Homo sapiens: one gene and its partners. The protein of the gene in region 1 purifies or fractionates together with the protein of each later gene. This does not show direct contact. Each region holds a gene or a part of one and is shown in the gene's direction. Other genes may lie near its edges.

What was found.
Region 2: the proteins of HTR7 (region 1) and TUBA8 purify together in Homo sapiens (tandem affinity purification; one large-scale study listed by IntAct). This does not show direct contact.
Region 3: the proteins of HTR7 (region 1) and PFKP purify together in Homo sapiens (tandem affinity purification; one large-scale study listed by IntAct). This does not show direct contact.
Region 4: the proteins of HTR7 (region 1) and KMT5C purify together in Homo sapiens (tandem affinity purification; one large-scale study listed by IntAct). This does not show direct contact.

What each region holds. Positions count from the first base shown.
Region 1 is NC_000010.11:90,746,540-90,750,039, reverse strand, and holds part of HTR7 (5-hydroxytryptamine receptor 7), read left to right. Parts: intron 1-445; coding exon 446-1,201; coding exon of another isoform or gene 1,202-1,205; exon of another isoform or gene 1,206-1,206; intron 1,207-3,500. UniProt on the Homo sapiens protein: G-protein coupled receptor for 5-hydroxytryptamine (serotonin), a biogenic hormone that functions as a neurotransmitter, a hormone and a mitogen.
Region 2 is NC_000022.11:18,113,809-18,117,308, forward strand, and holds part of TUBA8 (tubulin alpha-8 chain), read left to right. Parts: intron 1-3,500.
Region 3 is NC_000010.11:3,070,548-3,074,047, forward strand, and holds part of PFKP (ATP-dependent 6-phosphofructokinase, platelet type), read left to right. Parts: intron 1-3,500. UniProt on the Homo sapiens protein: Catalyzes the phosphorylation of D-fructose 6-phosphate to fructose 1,6-bisphosphate by ATP, the first committing step of glycolysis.
Region 4 is NC_000019.10:55,342,876-55,345,748, forward strand, and holds part of KMT5C (histone-lysine N-methyltransferase KMT5C), read left to right. Parts: exon of another isoform or gene 1-804; coding exon 805-968; intron 969-1,102; coding exon 1,103-1,122; intron 1,123-2,873. UniProt on the Homo sapiens protein: Histone methyltransferase that specifically methylates monomethylated 'Lys-20' (H4K20me1) and dimethylated 'Lys-20' (H4K20me2) of histone H4 to produce respectively dimethylated 'Lys-20' (H4K20me2) and trimethylated 'Lys-20' (H4K20me3) and thus regulates transcription and maintenance of genome integrity.

The sequences.
Region 1 (3,500 bases):
ATTAAGACAGCTGGGGTGATCACTGGGTGTATAATACCAGAGTGTGGTAGACCTTGGTTAAGTTTTGAGAATGTGTCACAACATCCTACATCAGAGTTGATATGTTGTCCTGGTTGATTTTGGTGGCTGTGGTCATGGGGACGGAGAGCTTTTTAAACTTTGTTGACTTCGTGGATTGTGAAAAACTATAAGGCATGCACAAAGCATGGACTGACTTTAGAGTCAGAGGGCTCTCAGGCTACAATCTGGCAATGCCTCTGTGTGACCCGGAATAAAATAGGTAACATCTCAGAGCCTTAGTTTACCTTTCTGCAAAATGGGAGTAATGATGCCTACCTAGAAGGGCTGTTGCGAGGACTGGCGCTGGTACCTGGCTGGCAGGACTTGCTTGGTTGACCAGTTATGATCACGGTGTTCATCTGTTATCTTTCCATCTCTCCACTAGGTACCTTGGGATCACAAGGCCCCTCACATACCCTGTGAGGCAGAATGGGAAATGCATGGCGAAGATGATTCTCTCCGTCTGGCTTCTCTCCGCCTCCATCACCTTACCTCCACTCTTTGGATGGGCTCAGAATGTAAATGATGATAAGGTGTGCTTGATCAGCCAGGACTTTGGCTATACGATTTACTCTACCGCAGTGGCATTTTATATCCCCATGTCCGTCATGCTTTTCATGTACTACCAGATTTACAAGGCTGCCAGGAAGAGTGCTGCCAAACACAAGTTTCCTGGCTTCCCTCGAGTGGAGCCAGACAGCGTCATCGCCCTGAATGGCATAGTGAAGCTCCAGAAGGAGGTGGAAGAGTGTGCAAACCTTTCGAGACTCCTCAAGCATGAAAGGAAAAACATCTCCATCTTTAAGCGAGAACAGAAAGCAGCCACCACCCTGGGGATCATCGTCGGGGCCTTTACCGTGTGCTGGCTGCCATTTTTCCTCCTCTCGACAGCCAGACCCTTCATCTGTGGCACTTCCTGCAGCTGCATCCCACTGTGGGTGGAGAGGACATTTCTGTGGCTAGGCTATGCAAACTCTCTCATTAACCCTTTTATATATGCCTTCTTCAACCGGGACCTGAGGACCACCTATCGCAGCCTGCTCCAGTGCCAGTACCGGAATATCAACCGGAAGCTCTCAGCTGCAGGCATGCATGAAGCCCTGAAGCTTGCTGAGAGGCCAGAGAGACCTGAGTTTGTGCTGTAAGGTCATTTATCACTATTTTCCTTTTATCCCCCAAACCCTTTTATGCAGCTTTTTGAGGCACATCACAGAAAGCTTCCTGAACGAGTAGCTAGCTTAGTTTTTACTAAACATACCAGATTTGAATTGACAACAGTATAGACTCCAGTCTTCCACCCAGTAAAATTCCAAAAGCCAAAAATAGGTACTTAGTTGGATTGGTAGATGAGACTAATTTGCTGATGAATTGCAATTGATGTGATTGACAACAAGGCAGGTGATATTTTCCCTTCTTTCTCCATAAATGACATCCAAATGATATCCTTACATCTGAATTTGTGTAACATTATTATTTTAGTTGTTATTATTCTTCTGTCCAGTAAAGCTTTTTTGATAACCTCATCCTTCACAGATAAATTCTTCTTTTGAGGTAGGAGGCACAATGATCTTTTTAGTATGCAGTTACATTCACCTGGGCTGAAAGGAGGCAGCCCAGGAAAAAGAAGAGTTGTTAGTGTGGGGAGATGCCAGGATGAGGCAAGGTCTTAAAAGCTACAAGAGCCGGACATGGTGGAGCGCCTCTGTAATCCTAGCCACTTGGGAGGCTGAGGCAGGAGGATAGCTTGAGCCCAGGGGTTGGATTATGCAGTGAGCTATGATCATGCCACTCCAACCTGGTTGACAGAGCAAGACTCGCCTCTAAAAAATAAAAGAAAAAGAGCCACAGGAGCTTTTAGGAAATGTTCCTGCCCATCTTGGCAGGTGAGAACCAAGAATTGGTCTAAGAAGTCTTAGTGACTTTCAAGGAAGCAATTACAATAGGTTCTTGGGATCTGAAAAAGGATCTGATGGTGATAGAGAAATGGAAATTTCAGAAGTGACCCACATGTTAAAAATTTGGCATTGTAAAGAAGGAAAGAGATAGTATACTAGTTAGAGGTGTCAACATGTCTGATGAAGACTTTGTTTTAAATGTGAGGTAGAGGAGATTTCTTCACGTTTGAAAGTCAGGGGAAAAATAAACTTGGAATGAAAAATTGGAAGGTTCTGGTGAGAGAATGAGCAGATTAGTGTTGGAGGTGTCGTTCTTCACTGAGCCTGGCAGGGAGGAGTAGACTAGAGAACCAGGGACCACTCTAGCAGAGAGGGACCTTCCTGGTCATCTTGTCCACCCCTGTCTTTCAACAGAAGAGCTAACTGGGAGTTGAAAAGTGAGATGTCTCACACTTAGCTAGTGTCACAACTAAGTCTAGATTCCACATCATCTGAATCCCAGTGCTACTCATTTTTCTTATACTGGACTGCCTTTATCTTACAACTGAAAGTTGGAAGACTACAGCTATGCTAATTCTTAAGCTGAGTGTAGCTTCACAGGCATTCATGTTTACTTCTATATACTCTTTTGTACACGAGATTGTTCACAATATAAAAAGTAGCATTAAAAAATGTAATTTTAAGTTCTAGAACATGTACTGTAAGCAAACCCAGAGATCTTACTATGCCTATAAGAGTTCGTTGAACTGACCATTAGGATTTTGAATTCCTTCAGAGAAGGAACAATGTCTTAATCAGATTTCTTTCTGCAGAATCTAGTACAGTGCTTGACACATAATAGATGATAAATAAAAGTAATAACTGCTAACCATTATTGAACACCCGCTACATGCTATGCAGCATGCTACCTGCAAAATAGGTGCTTCTAGCATCCCCACTTTTCAGAAGAACAACTTAAGGCTCAGGAACAAAAGTAACTGACCTATGTTCACACAGTCCCTAAGTGGTAGCTGTGATATGAATCACCCCGATGCTTGTATTGAATGTTATGCAGTTATACTTGTCAAGTGACTTCAGTATATAGGCAGTGAAGAGTCTCAGAATATTTTTGAGCTGGAGACTAGCCATAAGCTCTCTAAGAAGACAATGAGAATGAATTGTTACTCTAAGTAAGTAAAGTTTATTAGACTTACTGCACTACGAGTGGTATCCACTCCTAGACAGTCTTAGTAGTTTCTCAGATGAAGGAAATAAGGCAAGGATATTGATAGGGTTTTGGGGCTTGGGCTGGGTGATTTGAAGGTAGGGAACTGGTGAGGATTAGGCAGAGTTTATGACATAATAGCTTTAGACTGGTAAGTACAGCTAGATGAGGGCTGTGAAGTGAGTGTTAATGAGCAAACTAGTCTTGATAAGTAGGCTATTTTTGTTGGCATATAGTCTTCTGAAAGTGACTATTTCCTAGAACAAATAGCTAGGTTATTTTGCCTGGCTGCAGCATTTTTTAGCACAGGAAAAGGAAAGCGTGTTGGTTTTAGTTCTCAG
Region 2 (3,500 bases), on another chromosome or scaffold:
GAGTGAGGGGCCTTGGCTCACAGGGCAGCGGCTGGGGCAGAGCTGCTGGATTGGTGAGTCCATTGGGAGCCCCCAGCCTTGGGTCAGGCCCATACAGAGCTTGGGGTGGGGGTTAATGCCACTGTTGAATGTGCTTTCTCCTAGTGACCTTCAAAGGGAGATGAAAGTTAAAAATAATTTTGGTGGGGGAAATAGCTGGTGGATAGCGGGCCAGTGATGGGGGTGGGCAGGAGGATGTGGCACTGTCGGGGGGAGGAAGCAGACCAAATGCTCCTTTTCCCTCAAGCCGCAAGGGACGGACAGCACTATCTGTGGCCTTTGTGGTTGGCATTTCCCCTGCAGTGTCTTCCTGTTAGGAGTTCTCTCAGATAATAAGCTGCAGAAGAGAGCAGGAGATGGAGCAGGCACTGTGTGCATCGGATTGAAACTCCTAAGTGTCTCTTGCACCTGCCCCAGTGCCAGCCACAGCCCAGGCCTTCAACGCCCTCCGGCCTCTTATGCTGGAAGTCTCCTTAGCAGATGGCCTCATGGCCAGAGCTGGCCTCCTGTGAGCTCTGTTGCTGCCCTAACTGCAGTGCCTATCATCTGAGCCCCTCTCGCGAGCCACCTTCACTCGCTAAAGTGAATTTAGGCCGACTTTGTTTTTGCTGTGTCTGGCTTGCTATCTATTCTTTGTTATGAGTGATCTCAAATATGCCCTATGATCGAAGAGTTCTGAGCAGAGAGAATTCAGCAGCCCTTCAGGAGCCACATCTGTCCTTACTTTAATTACCCCTCTGTGACACTGTGGGCCTGCTTTTCACTTGCCATCCCTGACCTAGGTCCTAAGATATATGTGATCTATTTTATCCCAGCCTGACAACTAGAGATAATTCGGTGTAATCACATGCTTCCTGACAGCAACTGGGGCATGAGAGCACAGGTGGTCAGGGAGTGTGGGTGGTGCCAGGCTTTCACAGGGCACACACTGTGGTCCACGTCGGCCCCTCTCCCAGATGATATGCCACTTTTACTGTCTTGTGATACTTGGAAATAGTATCACAAGACAGCCTTTTTAAGGCTTCAAAGTCTCCTTTTGCCAAGGATGGTGATTAGCTTATCTTAGTCCTCTGAGAACAAAGCAAAAGGAAATGACTACTATTAAAATAGAATATAAGAATGATGTAAAAAAAAAAGGGCTTCTTGCAGCAAAATTATAAAAGGGCTGCAAAGTTCTAGAATTTCTTTTATTGATGCTCTGCAAAACACAGGCACTGGGCTCATGCCTCCCAGCGAGGGGCCTTGGCTCACAGGGCAGTGGCTCCCCAGGCGGAGTGTTCACAGGTGGCCCAGATGTCTCATTGGCCCTGCCCTTCCTCAGCCTGCGCTCCGGACAGACTGGGCAGTGTGCGGGAACCACCCTGCGTTTTACTGCCTCTTGTTCACACTGCTCCTGCATCCACCTGAACTGCCCCAGATCATCTTGGCCGGCTGCCTTCTTCAGGGTCCCTGCGAATATTCCTCCTTTAGGAAACCAAGCTAGAAGATGTCTCCTTCTCCTTGGAACTCCCTCTGCACTTGACCCGTACACTTCTTAGGCCCTGGCCGCTGTCCTTGTTGGATGGACTGCAGCCCCTCAGGGAAGGTTTTCATTCCAGTCCTCCCTGTGTTAATTGAGCACCTGCTACATTCAAGCACCGGGCTCGGTACTGGGGATTCCTTGAGTGAAACAAAGGTTCCTTGCCCTCACAGAGCTTACGTTCTCTACTAGAAAGGTGCGAAAATGAACAGGCAGCTATAATACGGTGTGATGATTACAATGACAGGAATGAAGGGGATGGGGGAGCACATGGCAGGGCCCTATGCTGGCTTGGGGTTTTGCAGACTTTCCTTAGGAAGTGACAATTAACTGGATACCTGAAGGATGAATGAGAGTTAGCCCAGTAACCTCACAATGCTGTCTCGAATGCAACCACACAAAAAGATTTGCTGTAGAAATGAGTAGGTGCCTTTTGTAGCTATCCCAGCGTGAGGTCTGTGTGAGAAGTGGCATGCTTTTCATGAGGAAGGGACCTCCTTGGTCCCTCCACCTCCCTCCTCTTCACCCCCCAGAAGAAGTTGGGTGGGACAGGCTTCTGCAGCAAACAAGGGACCCCCTCCCCTCACAGGGACCAAGGAGGACAGAACTTGTCTGAGCTCTACAAGCCCAGATTGAAAATAGAACTGAGAGAGACAGGAGCAGTGTGAGTGACAGGCATGTGCTCTGATTGGCTAGACAGAGGAATCTGAAATATGAGTTTGGAGCGGGCACATGACTTAAATATCCTCTGCTGGGTCAGCTTCCCCTTGCCCCCAACCCCAGCTGCACACGTGGGCCCTGAGAAGCGGACTTCTGGTTCTGTCAGAGAAAGATGACCCATTTTCAAAGAGGCCGCCCCATGAGCCATTCGCCATTTCGCTCTGCACAAGAGACATTTCCTGTTTGGAGTTCTGCTATCCGAACTTGGTCTTGCATTGGCGCAGATGTGGGCACACCCCAGGGCCCTGGGAGTTCAGAGCTGCAAGTGAGGCAGGAGGCCATGTGGCCTAAAAGAAAGAAGTCAGGCCCGGGTCAGCAGCCCTGGATTCTGGTCCAGGCTCTTTTGCTGCTGCAGTGCTGTGACATACTGAATTTGTCCCTTTTCCTCTCTGAGCTCAGCAGTTTCATCTGTAAAATAATGGAGAGGGAATCATATTAGGTGATCCATGAGGCTGGCCCAGCTCTGGTATCGTAAATGTTTGTAGCCAATACAACATCCCTGGTTATGATAGAAGGATGCCCTTGACTGGCCCAGCTCTGGTATCCTAAATGTTCGGAGCCGATATAACATCCCTGGTTATGATAGAAGGATGCCTTTTCTTAGACGTGAGGATGCGTCCCACGGGCTTCAGCACTGGGTCTGCTCTGTGGAACTTCCAGGCCGAAGGCTGGGGAGGGTAATGGGGCAGCATGGCTGCAGGAGTCGAGCTCAGTGCCTGAGCCGGGAGCTCGATGCGGGAGCTGTGGGCTGCTCCTCCTCCCTGCTAGGAGCAGGTGCAAGAGGCCTGCAGAGTGCTGGGGCTGGGCACGGACCTCACAGTGCCATGAAGCCTCGTGCAGCTTTGAATTTCACTTGTGATTTCTTCATGGAACTTCAAAGCCCTAGCAATGTAGGCGCGTAGTCAATTATTATTTGAGTAAGTGACTGCGTGCAATGGCCCAGGATAAGGGGGTTCTGGAGAGGGCAGTCCGTGCTCCTATTCTTTCTCTGTCTTCTTTATTATGATTTTTGCTTTTTACTATGAAAAATTTTAAGCCTTCAGAAAAGTAGAGTGATATGCCACCCATATACCTATTATCTAGATTTAAGAAGAAGAATGATTTTTCCATCTGTTATTTGCTGTGTTTGGGAAGGATTTTAAAGTACAGACGTCATGACATTTTACCTCTAAATGCTTCGGATGCAACTCTAAAAAATAAGGATGTTTTCATACTTAACCAC
Region 3 (3,500 bases), about 88 Mb from region 1:
TTTTGTATTCTAAGAGCTTTACACTTCTTATCTCCAAGCCTAAATACATGATCCCAAGAGAGGCGTGTCCTCATTTTGGAAGTGGGGAGAAAGACTCAGAAAGAAAAGTAAGTTAGGTAAGGGCATGAGGTGCATACGTGATTGTGATAGGAGCAAAACAGATCTTAATTCCAAATATTGTACTCTCCCGTAGACCACGAAGAGTACTTATGTCTGGCTGTGTCACCCAGGCCAGAGTGTAGTGGTGCCATCATAGCTCACTGCAGCCTCAAACTCCTGGGCTCAAGTGATCCTCCTGCCTCAACCTTCTGAGTAGCTGGGAAGACAGGAATGCACCATCATGACCAGCTAATTATTATTATTATTATTATTATTATTTTTGTAGAGACAGGATCTCACTATGCTGCCGAGACTGGCCTTGAACTCCTGGCCTCCTGTAGTGATCCTCCTGCCTTGGCCTCCCAAAGAGCTGGGACTACAGACATGAGCCATTGTGTCAGGCCTCCACCATCTCCACCATGTTTTTCAGGGACCTTTCTTGGTGAAGCTGCTTTATCTAGTTAATGCTCAAAAGTGAGCAAAACCCGATTTGCCCAAAATTACACAGATATTCTTTGGGTGGCTTTGTTAGGGGAACGGAAAATGCCTTTTTATAGTGATAGGAGTCCAGGTGGCAAGAACGATATTATGTGATGGGCTGCTTTTTCTTCTCTCAGTAGAGTGTATATTATTTAATTATAAGATACAATTGAAAATCTCTTTCTCTTTTCTATATTCCCGACTCCCCGGGCCTTGAATGAAGAAAGTATTTCTCAGGCTGTTTTTGTTTGTTTGTTTGTTTGTTTTTTCTACTTGCTTGGATATCTTCTGTCTCAGGCTGTTTTTTTTTTTTTTTTTTTTTTCTTTCTCTTCTTCTGCCTCTTTATGTATCTTCTGTTGTCCCAAGACATGTCTGGAAACTTAAATTGATTTTCACTCAATCTGAAATAAGCTCCATAACTCTGAATGGCGGACTTACCATGACTAAGTCCCCACTGCCACAGAACACTGTGCCACACACCAAGAGTGACTCATTGTCTTAGTCACAGGTTGTGGCTTCTGAAGGTCCTGGTGCCTGGTGGAGCTGAGTGTACTGGGAAGTCCAGGTGCATCCTTAGGGTAGGCTGCATGTGAAAGCTGCGTCCTTTTTGCCTGTGGTGAGGTGAATATCAATACAGTATTTATAGAAAGTCCACATAAATTGAGTAAGTACAAACCTTTCCAATCCTAGTGAGAATAACTAGCATTAATGACTCTTTGTTATGTGGCAGGGCCTCAGTGATCCTGGGCAATGACTTATCCCTATTTTACACATGAGCAAGGGGCGCCTGAGTTGCACCACCTTCCCTGAGTTCACAGAGCTCCGTGGTGGGGCCGGGCCCTGTGGCTGCAGCAGGGATGTTCAGGGCTGCGCGTACCTGCGTCTTCACTGGTGTCTTTCCCGCGCCCAGCACCATGCCTGGCGCTTCGCAGGAATGCAAGTGTTTGCTGCCTGCCTCCTGCCTGGAATCTCCACTGAGGAGCAGGAAACCAGGGGTTCTAGCTGTCTTCTTCGTCCATGAAGTCCTTTAGAGGAATTCAACCCTCTCTAATTAAAAGTATCCAATATCCTCAGGTCAATATGTGTAAACTGTTAAGACTTCAAGATTAGAACCTTAAAACCGAAGTCAGAAGTGTGAGGTTTCCATTGGCTGGACGTGCATTAGGTCAATGACACACATATTTATTGGACACCAGGCTTGAGCCCCACATGGGCACCTTTGGTGTCTGAAGCAATGCTGGCTTCGGAGCCCAGTAGGGTGGAAGGGGAAACTGAGAACAGCGCCATTTTGCCTCCCACGGCTCTGGGCCCGTTACCTTCCTGTGTACATACATTATTTGATGGGATCTTTTCAGTGTAAAGTGCAGTAATTAATTTTGCAAAAATTACTGGGTCTGGGAGGCAGTGTGTTGGAATGATGGTGTCACCATGTGGCACAGTGGGAGATTTGTGTAATGGCATCATTTTCTGTGAATGCAGACCGTTTTGTGTGCCATACTCGAATGACCCTTCGAAGCTAGACATTTTGTCATCTTTCGAAAGAAGCATGTTTTCCCCCTTGGTTACAGAAAGCTAAAAGCTTTTGATACAGGACTCCAACCTTTTATCAGGGAGAATTAGGCTCTTTAAATAATTAGGGCTCTACCAATCTGATGGGCCATCAGAAGCAATTAAAATTAGAAAGGTGAAGATACGGTAACGTAGTCAGGACAAACATCAGGATACCAGATTGCACGTTCACAATGGCATTTCGGCTAAGAAAGTGCGGGTGAATATAGAACAGAGGGCCGTATGTCAGTAATTGGGTTCCGTTTTGTGTTTCTTTTCCACAAGCCCTTTCTGGTGTTGTGTTTTTGTTTATTAGAGAGTAGCTGCCCAAAGGCTACAGTTTCCCTCCCCACTCCTCGGTTCTCTCCGTCTTCACCCCCAACTCCCAGTCCTGTGTTTGGAATTACAGTCATTGTGCTTGTCAGGATGTAAGAGGCAGCCAGACACATGGCAGACCAGAGCACTGAGAGGCAGAGACATTTATAGGTCCTAGCCCTGGTCCTGCTGTCTGGGTCAGCAGGGTGCTGAGTGCTGAGTGCTGAGATAGGGTCTTGATGTTTTCCTCTGCAGAATGGAGGCATCACTCAGTCTCTGTCTCCTCTCCCTGTCTCTGTCTTCCCTCCCCTCTTCCCTAACACATATCCACAGTGAAAGTGTTCAGGAGGAAAAGAGAATAGGCTGGACTGTGCTGGGACCCCCAACCCCAGGGCCCGTGTGCTATTTTCCCAGCCTCCGTGTGCCCAGAGATGCCTAGGGGAGCCTGCGGAGGTGTAGATCCTGACTGTGTGGGTCTGAGTGAGGCTCCGACTCTCACGGGGAGGGCACCGGTGCTGCTGGACCCCCTGGGGCCAGTGGAGCGGTTTGCAAATCGGGCAGATCAGCTTCTCCACTTCTCCAGGTTTCCCCAATGTGAGATGCTCCCAGGAGTCCCATGGGATTGTTTTCTGACTTTGACCAGGATTTTGACAGAGAAGATTCATTAATATAGGACCCCTTGTCTAAACGTACATATGTAAATGATCTGATCCGAAGTTTCCTGAATGGAAAATGATTGAAAGGGTGGCATGCAGTAGCCTCGGGGAGTCAGTCCTTCATATCTTTTCAGCTGTGTCTTACTACGATTAAGATTTTATTTCTGTGTGTGTGTGTGTTTTTTTTGTTTGTTTGTTTGTTTGTTTTTGAGACGGGATCTTGCCCTCTTGCCCAGCCTGGAGTGCAGTGGCTTGATGTCGGCTCACTGCAACCTCCGCCTCCTGAGTTCAAGCGATTTTCCTGTCCCAGCCTCCCAAGTAGCTGGGATTACAGGCATGCGCCACCATGCTCACCTGATCTTTTTTGTATCGTTAGTAGAGATGGGTTTCACCGTGTTGGT
Region 4 (2,873 bases), on another chromosome or scaffold:
GTATCCTTGGAGGAGACAGAGCTCAGAGGGGACAAGAGAGACCCTCTGTTCATGGACTGGCCAACCGGGGAAAAGCGAGGGGCCTGGTCCTCCGGGCATCCTAGGAAGGTGGTGGGGCTAATCCCGGAAGACCTTTGTGGCTACCGTGGTGCCGCTGGAGCAGGAGACCCCGGATGTGACCCCAGGGTTCCTGGGGCTTCCAGGAAAGAACTAGGCTTCTGGTCAGGGCCGTGCTGTCCTTACCTCCTTGTGACCTGAGCCCCCACCACATGTTAAACACCCCTGAGTGCAATGAGGAGCCCCTGCCCCTGCCCCTGCGGGGTTCACAGTCTGGTGAGGAGGTGGGGGGCAGACAAGTCAACATGCAGTCACTGGTCCCAGCTGGTACATGCTGCAGGGGAGCTGTGAGGAATGAGCAAGTGCTCCCAGGGCGAGGCTCACACTGACAGGGGAAGCACCCGCCTGAGGGTCTGGTGGGGCGAGTAGGGGGTAGTCCAGGCAGGAGGGATTTGGGGGCAGGAGGTGCTATGAGAGCGAGGGGAGAGAATGGGGGCTGTATCTGCTGTGTGCGTGCTGCCCTGAAGGCTTTCAGTAGAAGGGTCCTGTGGGGCTGTGGGCTGGAGCAGGGAAGCCCACCCAGGCAGGAGGGGAAGAGGGAGATCTGGAAGATGGATCGCCAATAGCCAGCACCAGCGCCCAGGAGTCCCTCCTTCCTGGGTGCCTCTGTGCCGGAGGCCCGAGTCCCCTGAACACCTGCAGGAGGCCAGGCATCGCCCACAGCCCTGCCCCCTGGCCTCTTGGCAGGAAAAAGAATGAGAAGCTGGAGCTGCTGGTGGGCTGCATTGCAGAGCTGCGGGAGGCAGATGAGGGGCTGCTGAGGGCCGGTGAGAATGACTTCAGCATCATGTACTCAACCCGCAAGCGGAGTGCTCAGCTGTGGCTGGGCCCAGCCGCCTTCATCAACCATGGTGAGGGTCAGGCAGGTGGATGGGCAGGACGGGATAGAGCCAGGCAGGGCTGGAGGGGTGTAGTGGGAGGGTTCTGCGACTGAGCTGCCGAGCTCATCTACCTCTCTTCTCTCTCCTGCCCCAACTGGCTCCAGACTGCAAACCCAACTGCAAGGTAAGGCCTTGGGACTCGGGAGGAGAGGGCACGCAGGAAGAAAGGGTGCCTGTGGCCTGGGGAAAGGGTTTTTGGTCAGTAAAGAGCCAAACACCGGCCGGGCGCGGTGGCTCATGCCTGTAATCCCAGCACTTTGGGAGGCCGAGGTGGGCAGATCACGAGGTCAGGAGATGGAGACCACGGTGAAACCCCATCTCTACTAAAAACACAAAAAATTAGTCGGGCGTGGTGGCGGGCGCCTGTAGTCTCAGCTACTTGGGAGGCTGAGGCAGGAGAATGGTGTGAACCCGGGAGGCGGAGCTTGCGGTGAGCCGAGATCGCGCCACTGCACTCCAGCCTGGGCCACAGAGCGAGACTCTGTCTCAAAAAAAAAAAAAAAAAAGAGCCAAATGCTGCCCCATGTCTCCATGGCTTCCCACGGGTCCTGGAAGGGGCAGAGTGGGTATTTGCTCACAAGGCTACCAGAAAGGAGGAAGGGGTTCCAGTTTGGCCAGCGTTGCCCGGCTGTTTGTGCAGTTGCACTGGAACCCTGGTTGCCAGCTGCTGGCCATCTTTCTTCTCTGAAAACCGAGCTGGGAGCTGTGCCAATTTGGGCAGGGAGTGTGGCAGGGAGGCAGGGCCCTGTGGTGGGAGCCCCCGGCCTTGCAGGGAACAACGCAGGCAGCTGTGGTGGCAGGAGCAGGGAGGCCAGAGAGCCCCAGGGGCCAGGACTCAGGATGCTGTCCAGACATGCCCAGGAGAGGCCGCTGGTTGTCCTGTAGCCCGGAAGCAGAAGGAATCAGGAGGGTTGGCTCCAGGGCGGCATTGAGGGTGCACCCTCTGGAGCACAGACCTCGATGGGGCACCCCGGGAGGCATGACAAAGGGATCCAGATTTTTGGCTCCAGAGTCAGAACTGAGTTGGGGTCCTGGCGATGCCACCCCTGGCCTTTGGTTTTTCATCTCAGATGGGGTTGGTGAGGATCTCTGGAACTCTGCGGGCTGGTCAAGTGTGCCGGAGGGTTTTGGACAGCGAATGCGTGGCCCTGGTCTGACACCACACACAGACGCTGGGGGGGATGGAAACAAAAGGCGGCATTCGGAGAGGCTCTGCAGGGCCAGTGTGCTCCAGCCACCTTGAGCACACGAGAGGGCGGCCAGCTCTCCAGCGATCTAGAACCATCTGGCTTCACAGAAGCCATGCTGGGCATCGACGGAGGAGTAGAATTTCCCTAGGTGTTAAAGGAAATCAGGGGCAAAGGGGGGCGTCTAGCAGGACACGGCACACCAGAGGGCTGGGGGTGCCCAGCGACGGCTTTGATCCGGCAGCAAGGCCTTGGGGTCCGGGCCAGGGAGCCATGGAAGCTCCCCCCAGGGTGTATAATGGGAAGCTTGGTTTTTAGGTCACCCTGGAGGCCCATGTGCAGGAGGCTTGGCAGGAAGGGGAGAGGCTGTAGGCAGGGTGGCCACAAAGAGGTGATGAGGGGCTGACTCCAGTAGGGGTCTCGGGGAGGCGAGGAGGATGAGGATGCGGGAGGTGGCACACTCAGAAGGCAGTGGCCGGTTGGTCTGGGGGCCGTCAGGCAGGCAGGTGGCGAGGGCTACTCCCAGGCAAATGTCAGGCTTGAGTGGATGGGTAGATGGACAGTTGGGTGGACAGTGGTCATGCCCCCTCCTAGACGGGGAACAGGGAGGAAGGCGCAGCTGTGTGGGGCTTAGGAGGAGCCTGTGGGGCAGCTCCTGGGTGAATGATCCCAAAGGCAGGGCCAGAGC